3 separate regions of the Homo sapiens genome follow, and all the other regions are linked to region 2. The links come from fine-mapping of genetic effects on gene expression. A gene starts in region 2. Each other region holds a variant in brackets. All regions are shown on one strand. Distances are between the middles of the regions. Region 1 holds the start of ZSCAN32 (zinc finger and SCAN domain containing 32). Region 2 holds the start of ZNF597 (zinc finger protein 597). Region 3 has its middle 12 kb from the start of ZNF174.

Region 1 (2,500 bases), 43 kb before region 2:
AGTCCCTCTCATTGGTTCTGGTGGGGATATTAATTACAATACCCACTTCCCCAGAAGTGGGCATATGACACACAGCTAGGCCTATCAAAATTCTTTTCTCAGATTTTACATGAGAGGTAGGGAAAGCTCTTCATTTTCTAGGAATTGGTAAATTGGGCAAATGTAAGATCAGAGTTGTCTCCAACTATGTCCCACTCTCTACTCCACTCTTCCATCACAGGAGTGAGCCTGTTTACAAGAGGACAATATACTCAAGTCTTGACAACATGTTTGGATCTCCAAGGCCAGTTTATGTAAGGCAATATTTTTTTAAGAGTTAATTTTAAAAATAGTTTTATATAATTTAAAATTAATAAATAACTTTTAAAAATAATTTTATTTGTTTTTTTATCTTTAGAGATGGAGTCTCACTCTGTTGCCCAGGCTGGTCTCAAACTCCTGAACTCAAGCAATCCTCCCACCTCAACCTCCCAAAGTGTTAGGATTACAAGTATAAGCCACCATGCCCGACCTTAAAAATAATTTTAAATAGAAGCTAACTTTTGTATTTTTTGTAGAGGTGGAGTTTCACTATGTTGCCCAGGCTGGTCTCAAACTCCTGTGCTCAAGTGATCCTCCCACCTTGGCCTCCCAAAGTGCTGGGATTACAGGTGTGAGCCACTGCACCCGCGAAGGCAGTCTTTTTTAATGAGTTTGTGTTGGTTTTTATCTACTTAAAACACAGATTAAAGCAGATCGTAATTTACATTTTCTCCAGGGGCTGATACACCCTCACCATGTGGTATTAAAATGGATCCAGCATGCACAACAAGATGAATATACTCAGGACTACTGAGCTGTACACTTAAAAATGGTTATGATGGTAAATGTTTTTTAAAAATTAAAGAAATTTTTTTATATTTTAAAAATGGATTTGGGTTCCCTTTTCTCAAGGAACTTGAACTGCCTTCACTTAAATTCTCTTTACATTTCAGTGCTTCTAGAGATAGAGAAATCAAGGGCATTATTATTGTTAGCACTGCTTTCTAGCCAAAAAGAAACTGAGAGCGATGAAGTATCTTGCCTAAAGCATCACACAGCACAGCTCCTAGGCAGCAAGGCCAGGACTAGAACCAGCACCCCTTGCCTTCATTATGTTCATCCTGTGCCTTACCTGGCTGAAGAA[G/T]AATTTAATAAAAGCTCTTCTAACTTCATGCAGAAGGCGGAACCTGCACCCTTCTTGACCCCTTTTGACCCCTTACCTCCCACTCATCGTTAAATTTTAAAATGCTGTTCTCTGAAAATTTTACTTCACTCTAGCGATGGCCCAAACACTCGGAAAAAAATGTAGCATGAGGATGGGGAGCCAGGTTGATAGGTTTTTCACTTAGTTAACTATTTATTGAGTACTCAGAACGCACTCGGTGCCAGGGCTAGGCACTGTGGATGAGTAGGGAGTGGGCGAGACAGGGACGAGATGAGCAGGGTCAAGGCCAGGGGGTCCCGGGGCGCCGGCGCTCAGGCTCGGGGTGATCCGCACGGTGGGAGCGGGGCACGGTGATCGCGGCGCGTCTGGGGACGCCCGGCCTGAGGGAGGCTGCCTGTCCCAAGGAGACGCCCATCGGGGCCGGACCCGAACGCCTCGGAGAAGACTCCCAGCGGGGAGGGGCTCCTCGGCCGTCGCAGGGCCCAGCGGCTAATCCCGCCGGCCGCAAGGAAGCGGAGAACTCACCGGACACCAGCACTCGCGACTCCACAAACTCCCTCAGCCTCCGGGCCGGAAGTCAGCGGCGCGATTCGCTCCGCCCATTACGCACGCCCCTGCGCAGGCCCGCAAGCCGAATTGCCGGACTGCAGCTCCCGGGATGCACTGCGACGGTATTGACAGGCGCAGCAACCAATAGACGGTAGAGAATGCCCTTGGCAGGAGGCGGGCCCTGTCAGTAGTTGTCCTCAGCAGCTAGTGGGCGTCTCCGCAGCGAGTGGCATCGGCCCCGCCCCCAGCCCGTGCTCGCCGGTGTCGGGTCCTAAGTCCCTCGGTCTTGGGTTCCCGGAGAGGTGAGTCGGCTGCAGGTGGGTGCGGGGCGCCGGGCTGTTCGGGGTACCGGTGTCGCAGTCGCCAGTCCGAGCTCACACCGGGCGTGGAGTTCAGCTGCGCATCGGGTTGCGGCAGCTTCGCCAGGCCTGGGGCTGGCTGGGCCGCGGGGCCGCCCTGGAGGCCGGAGCCACTGGGCCTGCGGCGCCTCGGCAGCGAGCAGCCGCTTTGCTCGCGTGCAGGAGGCTGTTCGCTACCTCACACCCCCGGCTGGCGCTGTGGCCTCGCTTAGCTCTACCGTTTAGCACCCGGCGACATGCACCCGGTCGGTTTCCGCCAGGATGCGGGAGAGTTGGGGCAAGCTACCTGCGACAGCTTGAACTTTTCCTAGGGATTCCGCTCCACCCGCCGGTTAGAGCGTATTGCTCATTAAATCCGAGACCTGTGTGCTTGCTACTGAAATAAAAGAAGTATTTTTTCCCCAGA
Region 2 (2,844 bases):
AAAAAAAAAGAAAAGAAAAGGAGAAAGTTGGGCAGCCCAGGAAGAATCATAAAGAGATAAAGGTTACAGGATTCTCCCAACATCCTTCCCTTTGCTATTTCCTCTCGTCCCCATGACACTCATTGCTAAGCTCACTCCAGCACTTCATCCAGGCCTACCCCACCTTCTCTAACGGTGTGATAAATTAATCACTTGGGATTTATTATTACTCAACGAGTGTGGAGTCTAGAAATGTGCTTAATTTAAAAATTCATTCAAATTGGAGAAGTACCAAATCTGTAATTTTGGGAACCATTCCAGAAAGTCACTTTTAATCCTAGCACTTTGGGGAGCCGAGGTGGGAGGATAGCTGAAGGCCAGGAGTTCCTTGGCAAAGCAGCAAGACTCCATCTCCATAAAGAAGTTTTAGGCCGGGCGCAGTGGCTCACACCTGTAATTCCAGCACTTTGGGAGACCGAGGCGGGCGGATCACAAGGTCAGGAGATTGAGACCATCCTGGCTAACACGGTGAAACCCCGTCTCTACTAAAAATACAAAAAATTAGCAGGGCGTGGCGGCAGGCGCCTGTAGTCCCATCTACTCGGGAGGCTGAGGCAGGAGAATGGCATGAACCCGGGAGGCGGAGCTTGCAGTGAGCCGAGATCGCGCCACTGCACTCCAGCCTGGGCGACAGAGCGAGACTCTGTATCAAAAAAAAAAAAAAAAGAACTTTTAAAAGTAGCCAGACACTGTGGTATGCGCGCCTCTCAGATACTCGAGAGGCTGAGGCGTAAGGATTCCCTGAGTTCCAGACGGAGCTATGATATCAGCACTGCACTCCAGCCAGACAAGCAACACTCCAGCGACAAGGCCAGACCCTATCTCCAAACAAAACAAAACAAACAGATAAGACATTGAGAAACTCTCTCAGAGATTCCTCCACAGGTCCCTGCTCCCAGTTGGTAGTTCTGAAAGAAGGAAGTTGGTAAACCATTATGTGTGTGGTCTTGGAACGAAGAACACTTGGTCAAAGGGCTATTTGGGGCTCAGGAGCACTCCTACCACAACAGGCATGCCCAACTCTCCTCCAAAGGAGGGGGTCAGGCAGAGACCGAAAGCAGCAATAAACTTGGACGAAAAAGGTACCTCGACTCACCTGGGCCTCGGGCGTCGGGGGCATGGACGCCATTTGGCGGGTGGGGAATGCCTTCTTCAAGACGCCACAGGGACTTCGTGACAAAGCTGCGGGGGGAGAGAACAGTTCTTAAAGGGACCAATTCCGCTGCCAAGTTCCTCCACTACCCCTAGCCTCCCTCGATTCCCTCCGAACCCCCCCTTAAAAACCTACGCCGACTGCTCCTCCTCTTGGCCCGGCCTCGAAAGGGGCCCACTTACCGCTCCGCGGTTAATAACAGGCCTCGCGCTCCCTGACAGGAGCTGCAGAAAGCGACGCCCGACCGAGACGCGACGAAGAACGCCACGGCCACTGCAAAACTCCCACGCTCTCATGCTCCTTTACGCAGGAGCTGCGGGAAAAGCCGCCGGAAGCGACCCGCCCTCAGCCCTCTCCGCCATCCTGCCCTTTGATTGGTCGAAGTTCTCCCGAAGGGGAAGTCCTTCTTTTGTGTTGACCAATTGAACACCTTAACCGAGGACCTGTAGCCACTGGGCAGCTGCGAGAGGTAGTTTTCCTCCTTTTCTCTAAGCAACCATTTCCGCTTCCGCTGGCGGGGTCTCCTCCGTGAGCTCCGGGCCTGTTTGCCTGCTGAAGTAGAGTCTTAGGGTGACCCCAGGGGGACGTAATGTTTCCGAGAAGAAGGACAGAAAGAAGACTGGGAGACACCGGAACTCGAAAGAAAATCGGTAACAAAATGTGGGTTCGGCCAACAGTGCCCTGTAGGCCTGAAATTTCGGTCTGGCCAGAGCAAGGTGATTGAGAGGGCGGGGGTTCGGGCCTAGCCTGGGCTTGAGCTGTCCTTTGTGTCTTGAGCGGATGGTGGGGCCGTGGAACATGAAGGAGTATCTTTGTGTACGTTCACAACGTTCACATCGGTGTAGGCCAGGTTGCTGGACTCTGACTCAAAGTGTTATAGAGGCATTACGTATTGTACCCGCAGCTGCAGCCTAAGCGAGCTGCTTCAGCTTCCTAGTCACAGGATCCCACGCGAGAATAGAGCCATAGGTTAGCGTCGCAGGACGTTGTTCGCCCCCGGATACCTCACATGCAGCCTACCCTAGAGCCAGTCATTTCCTATTGTGTGCTGGGGGAGGAGGGAGTGCCCTGGTGTAGGCATTTGGAATTGGAAAATTGAGCTCCTCCCCAAGCTCTGCCACTGATTGGTTGGTAATCTTGGCCAGTTTACAACTTTGCTTTCCTCAGCTGCAAACAGCTCAGAGTGCCTCTCTGGGCTAACTCAGAGGGTAATTTCAAAGATTATAAGATAATGTAAGTGAAAGAAATTGCCAGTTTATAAAGGTGTTTGGGGAAAAAAAAAGACGAAAATGATAGGTACCTTGATAGAAAAGCCTGAAAAGTCTCAACATATTTCCTTATTCCAGTGCCAGGCACATTCCTGTATCTAAAAGCTTAATGAATGGCTGCATGGTTATTAAAACAATATTAGGAGATTTGACAACTTAGGTAATGTGATTTTGTGGAATATCTGATAGGATAGTTTCAGCTACAAGTAACAGAAAACCCACCGAAAGGATGTTCAAAGAGCAGTTACAGGTTGGTTAATTCGGTGGCCCAGTGACAACATCAAGGTCCCAGTGCTTCTCTGCCACCCTAAGCATGTTGGTAACGTTGACAATAGAATCCAGGTAAAATATACAGACATGTATTGTGTCATGTACCCATCCTAA
Region 3 (2,844 bases), 30 kb before region 2:
TGGGGCCGGGCGTGGTGGCTCACACCTGTAATCCCAGCACTTTGGGAGGCCAAGGTTGTGAAAAGTTCACCTGAGGTCAGAAGTTCAAGATCAGCCTGGCCAATATGGTGAAAGCCTGTCTCTACTAAAAATACAAAAATTAACCGGATGTGGTGGTGCACGCCTATAATCCCAGCTACTCGGGAGGCTGAGGCAGAAGAATCACTTGAACATGGGAGGCAGAGGCTGCAGTGGGCCGAGATTGTGCCACTGCACTCCAGCCTGGGCAGCAAGAGTGAAACTTGGACTCAAAAAACAAAAACAAACAAAAAAACACAAAAAGCAAAAAAACCGCCGGGCACGGTGGCTCACGCCTGTAATCCCAGCACTTTGGGAGGCCGAGGTGGGTGGATCACGAGGTCAGAAGATCGAGACCATCCTGGCTAACACAGTGAAACCCCGTCTCTACTAAAAATACAAAAAAAATTAGCTGGGCGTGGTGGCAGGCACCTGTAGTCCCAGCTACTCAGGAGGCTGAGGCAGGAGAGTGGCGTGAACCCAGGAGGTGGAGCTTGCAGTGAGCCGAGTTTGCACCACTGCACTCCAGAGCCTGGGCTACAGAGCAAGACTCCGTCTCAAAAAAAAAAAAAAAAAAAAAAAAAAAAAACCCACAACCTTATCGTTCTAGAGGTCAGAAATCTGAAATTGATTTCACTCAGCCAAAATCAAGCTGTCGGCAAGGCTGGTTCCTCTGAAGGCTCTGAGGGGTGAATCTCTTGCCTTGACTTTTTCAGCTTCTAACAGCCACCCACATCCTTTGGCCTCCACCCTCAAAGTGCATCACTCCAATCTCATTCCACCGCATTCTCCTCTGACTATGACCTTCCTGCTTGCCTTGTATAAGGACCGTTATGATGTTGGGCCCACCGGCATAATCCAGAATAATCTCCCTATCTCAAGATCCTTAACTTAATAACATCTGCAAAGCCCCTTTTGCCATATAAGGTAAACTTAATGGGTTCCAAGTATTAGGATGTGGACACATTTGGGGTGCCATGACTCAACCCACCGCACATATCCATCTTGAATCAAGTTAGTCAAAGAGCATCTCTCCTAAAAGAGAAGGACCATAGATTTCTACTTAATTATAAGGGTTGGGGTCAGGCGCAGTGGCTCACACCTGCAATCCCAGGACTTTGGGAGGCCGAGGCAGGCGGATCATTTGAGGCCAGGAGTTCAAAACCAGCCTGGCCAACATGGTGAAATCCTGTCTGTACCAAAAAAAAAAAAAAAAAAAAGAATTAGCCGCGTGTGGTGGTGTGCGCCTGTAGTCCCAGCTACTCACGAGGCTGAGGCATGAGAATCTCTTGAACCCGGGAGGCGAGGCTGAAGGAAGGTAGAGGTTGCAGTGAGCTGAGATCGCACCATTGCACTCCAGCCTGGGCAACAGACCATCCCCAAGCATAGCCTTCCTTTGGTATAAGGCTCAACTCCAGGCCAAGAGGACCAGGAAGGGTCCAATGGCTACAAGAACCCAAGGTCCTGTACTCAGATGTAAGTTTCCTCTCAGCCCCCGTACCCATGCATGGTCTGCCAGAGGACCTCAGCTGCTCCAATAGATTGTGATTCTCCGTATCCACCAGTCTGTCTCTACAAATTTTGGGGTGGCTGTTTGCCCTGTGACCTCACTTCTCTTACAGAAGAATTGTTGGGTTTTTC[G/T]GGTTGTTCAGCTTTTTATTTGTCATTAGAATGGAGTGACAACTTTCAAGCTCCTTATATTTGCAACCAGAGACTGGAAGTCACAAGAGTGAAACACCGTCTCAAAAAAAAGAAAACAGCAGTGAGACAGTGACTCCCTGACCTCACTGGCTAGATGAATTCCTCTTAAACCTTCTCAAAGCAAAACATGGCTCTACTTGGCTGCAGTTGCCCTCTCAATGCAGATCGCAACGAAACCCTCTCAATGCAGATCTCTGCCTTCCCGCCTCAACACTGCACCCGGGAGCCCTCCTCCAAGGGTCAGTGCCCGATAGGTTTGAGGGCAAGCCCCCGCCAGGGTGAAGCCGCCTCCTCCTCTGGGCCTGGGACGTGCTGGGAGGGAGGGAACGCGGTCCCCCGGGGAGTCACATGCCCCCATTCCCGGGGTCACCCAGGGACAACGGGCAGGAATAGACAGGTAAGGACCCTGCAGCTGAGCGAGCCCTGTGGCCGGATGTTCCAGGTAGGCTTTTCCGGAAATCGCCACCGGAGGATAGAACGCTCCTAGGGTGAGGGGCGGGGCCTCGACAGGAAATACCTGAAAGAGTCCCCTCTGAGTGGGCTGCTTGGCGCCCAGCCCGAGGAATTCTCACCTTCCATTGCCTGGCACAGCTGTCAGGGTGAAGAGGAGGCCGGGCAGCCACGGAGCCCTCTGGGAATTGTGGTTTTCGTGGGCTCCACGTACTGCTGAGCTGTTGCTTGCCTGAGACTGTTGAACCTCAAAGGGTGTCCTGGGGTTCATTCATTAAGCTTGTTCACGCAAATGACAAATATTTATTGACTGTCCACAACACGCCAGGCACCAATAGGGGCTGGAGGCAATATGGTGAACCCGGACGATGCTCATGGTCTCTTAGAAAGCCCAGTCTCCAGGCCGGGCGCGGTGGTTCACGCCTGTAATCCCAGTACTTTGGGAGGCTGAGGTGGGCGGATCACCTGAGGTCAAGAGTTCGAGACCAGCCTGGCCTACATGGTGAAACCTCGTCTCTAACAAAAATATAAAAAAAAAAAAAAAAAAAAAAAAAAAAAAATTAGCTGGGCGTGGTGGCGTGCGCTTATAGTCCCAGCTACTCAGGGAGGCTGAGGCAGGAGAATTGCTTGAACCCA

Evidence for each region.
Region 1: its variant is fine-mapped to the expression of ZNF597 in blood mononuclear cells (TOPMed, PIP above 0.99).
Region 3: its variant is fine-mapped to the expression of ZNF597 in whole blood (TOPMed, PIP above 0.99).

What each region holds. Positions count from the first base shown.
Region 1 is chr16:3,399,234-3,401,733 of GRCh38, forward strand. It overlaps ZSCAN32 (zinc finger and SCAN domain containing 32), which reads right to left and starts at 1,771. Exons shown (of 7, transcript NM_001284527.2): 1 at 1,712-1,771. It overlaps ZNF174 (zinc finger protein 174), which reads left to right and starts at 1,982. Exons shown (of 3, transcript NM_003450.3): 1 at 1,982-2,500. LOC105371059 (a long non-coding RNA gene) reads left to right here. Exons shown (of 4, transcript XR_007064949.1): 3 at 1-293; 4 at 398-436. RefSeq lists silencers at 1,409-1,558, 2,109-2,328 and an enhancer at 1,532-2,031. The variant G/T (reference allele first, on the strand shown) is at 1,166.
Region 2 is chr16:3,441,986-3,444,829 of GRCh38, forward strand. ZNF597 (zinc finger protein 597) reads right to left here and starts at 1,519. Exons shown (of 4, transcript NM_152457.3): 1 at 1,375-1,519; 2 at 1,136-1,221. The coding sequence starts at 1,168. It overlaps NAA60 (N-alpha-acetyltransferase 60, NatF catalytic subunit), which reads left to right and starts at 1,695. Exons shown (of 8, transcript NM_001083601.3): 1 at 1,695-1,852. RefSeq lists an enhancer at 1,779-1,928.
Region 3 is chr16:3,411,845-3,414,688 of GRCh38, forward strand. No RefSeq gene overlaps it. Among named protein-coding and RNA genes, the nearest start is that of ZNF174, 12 kb to the left of the region's middle. The variant G/T (reference allele first, on the strand shown) is at 1,699.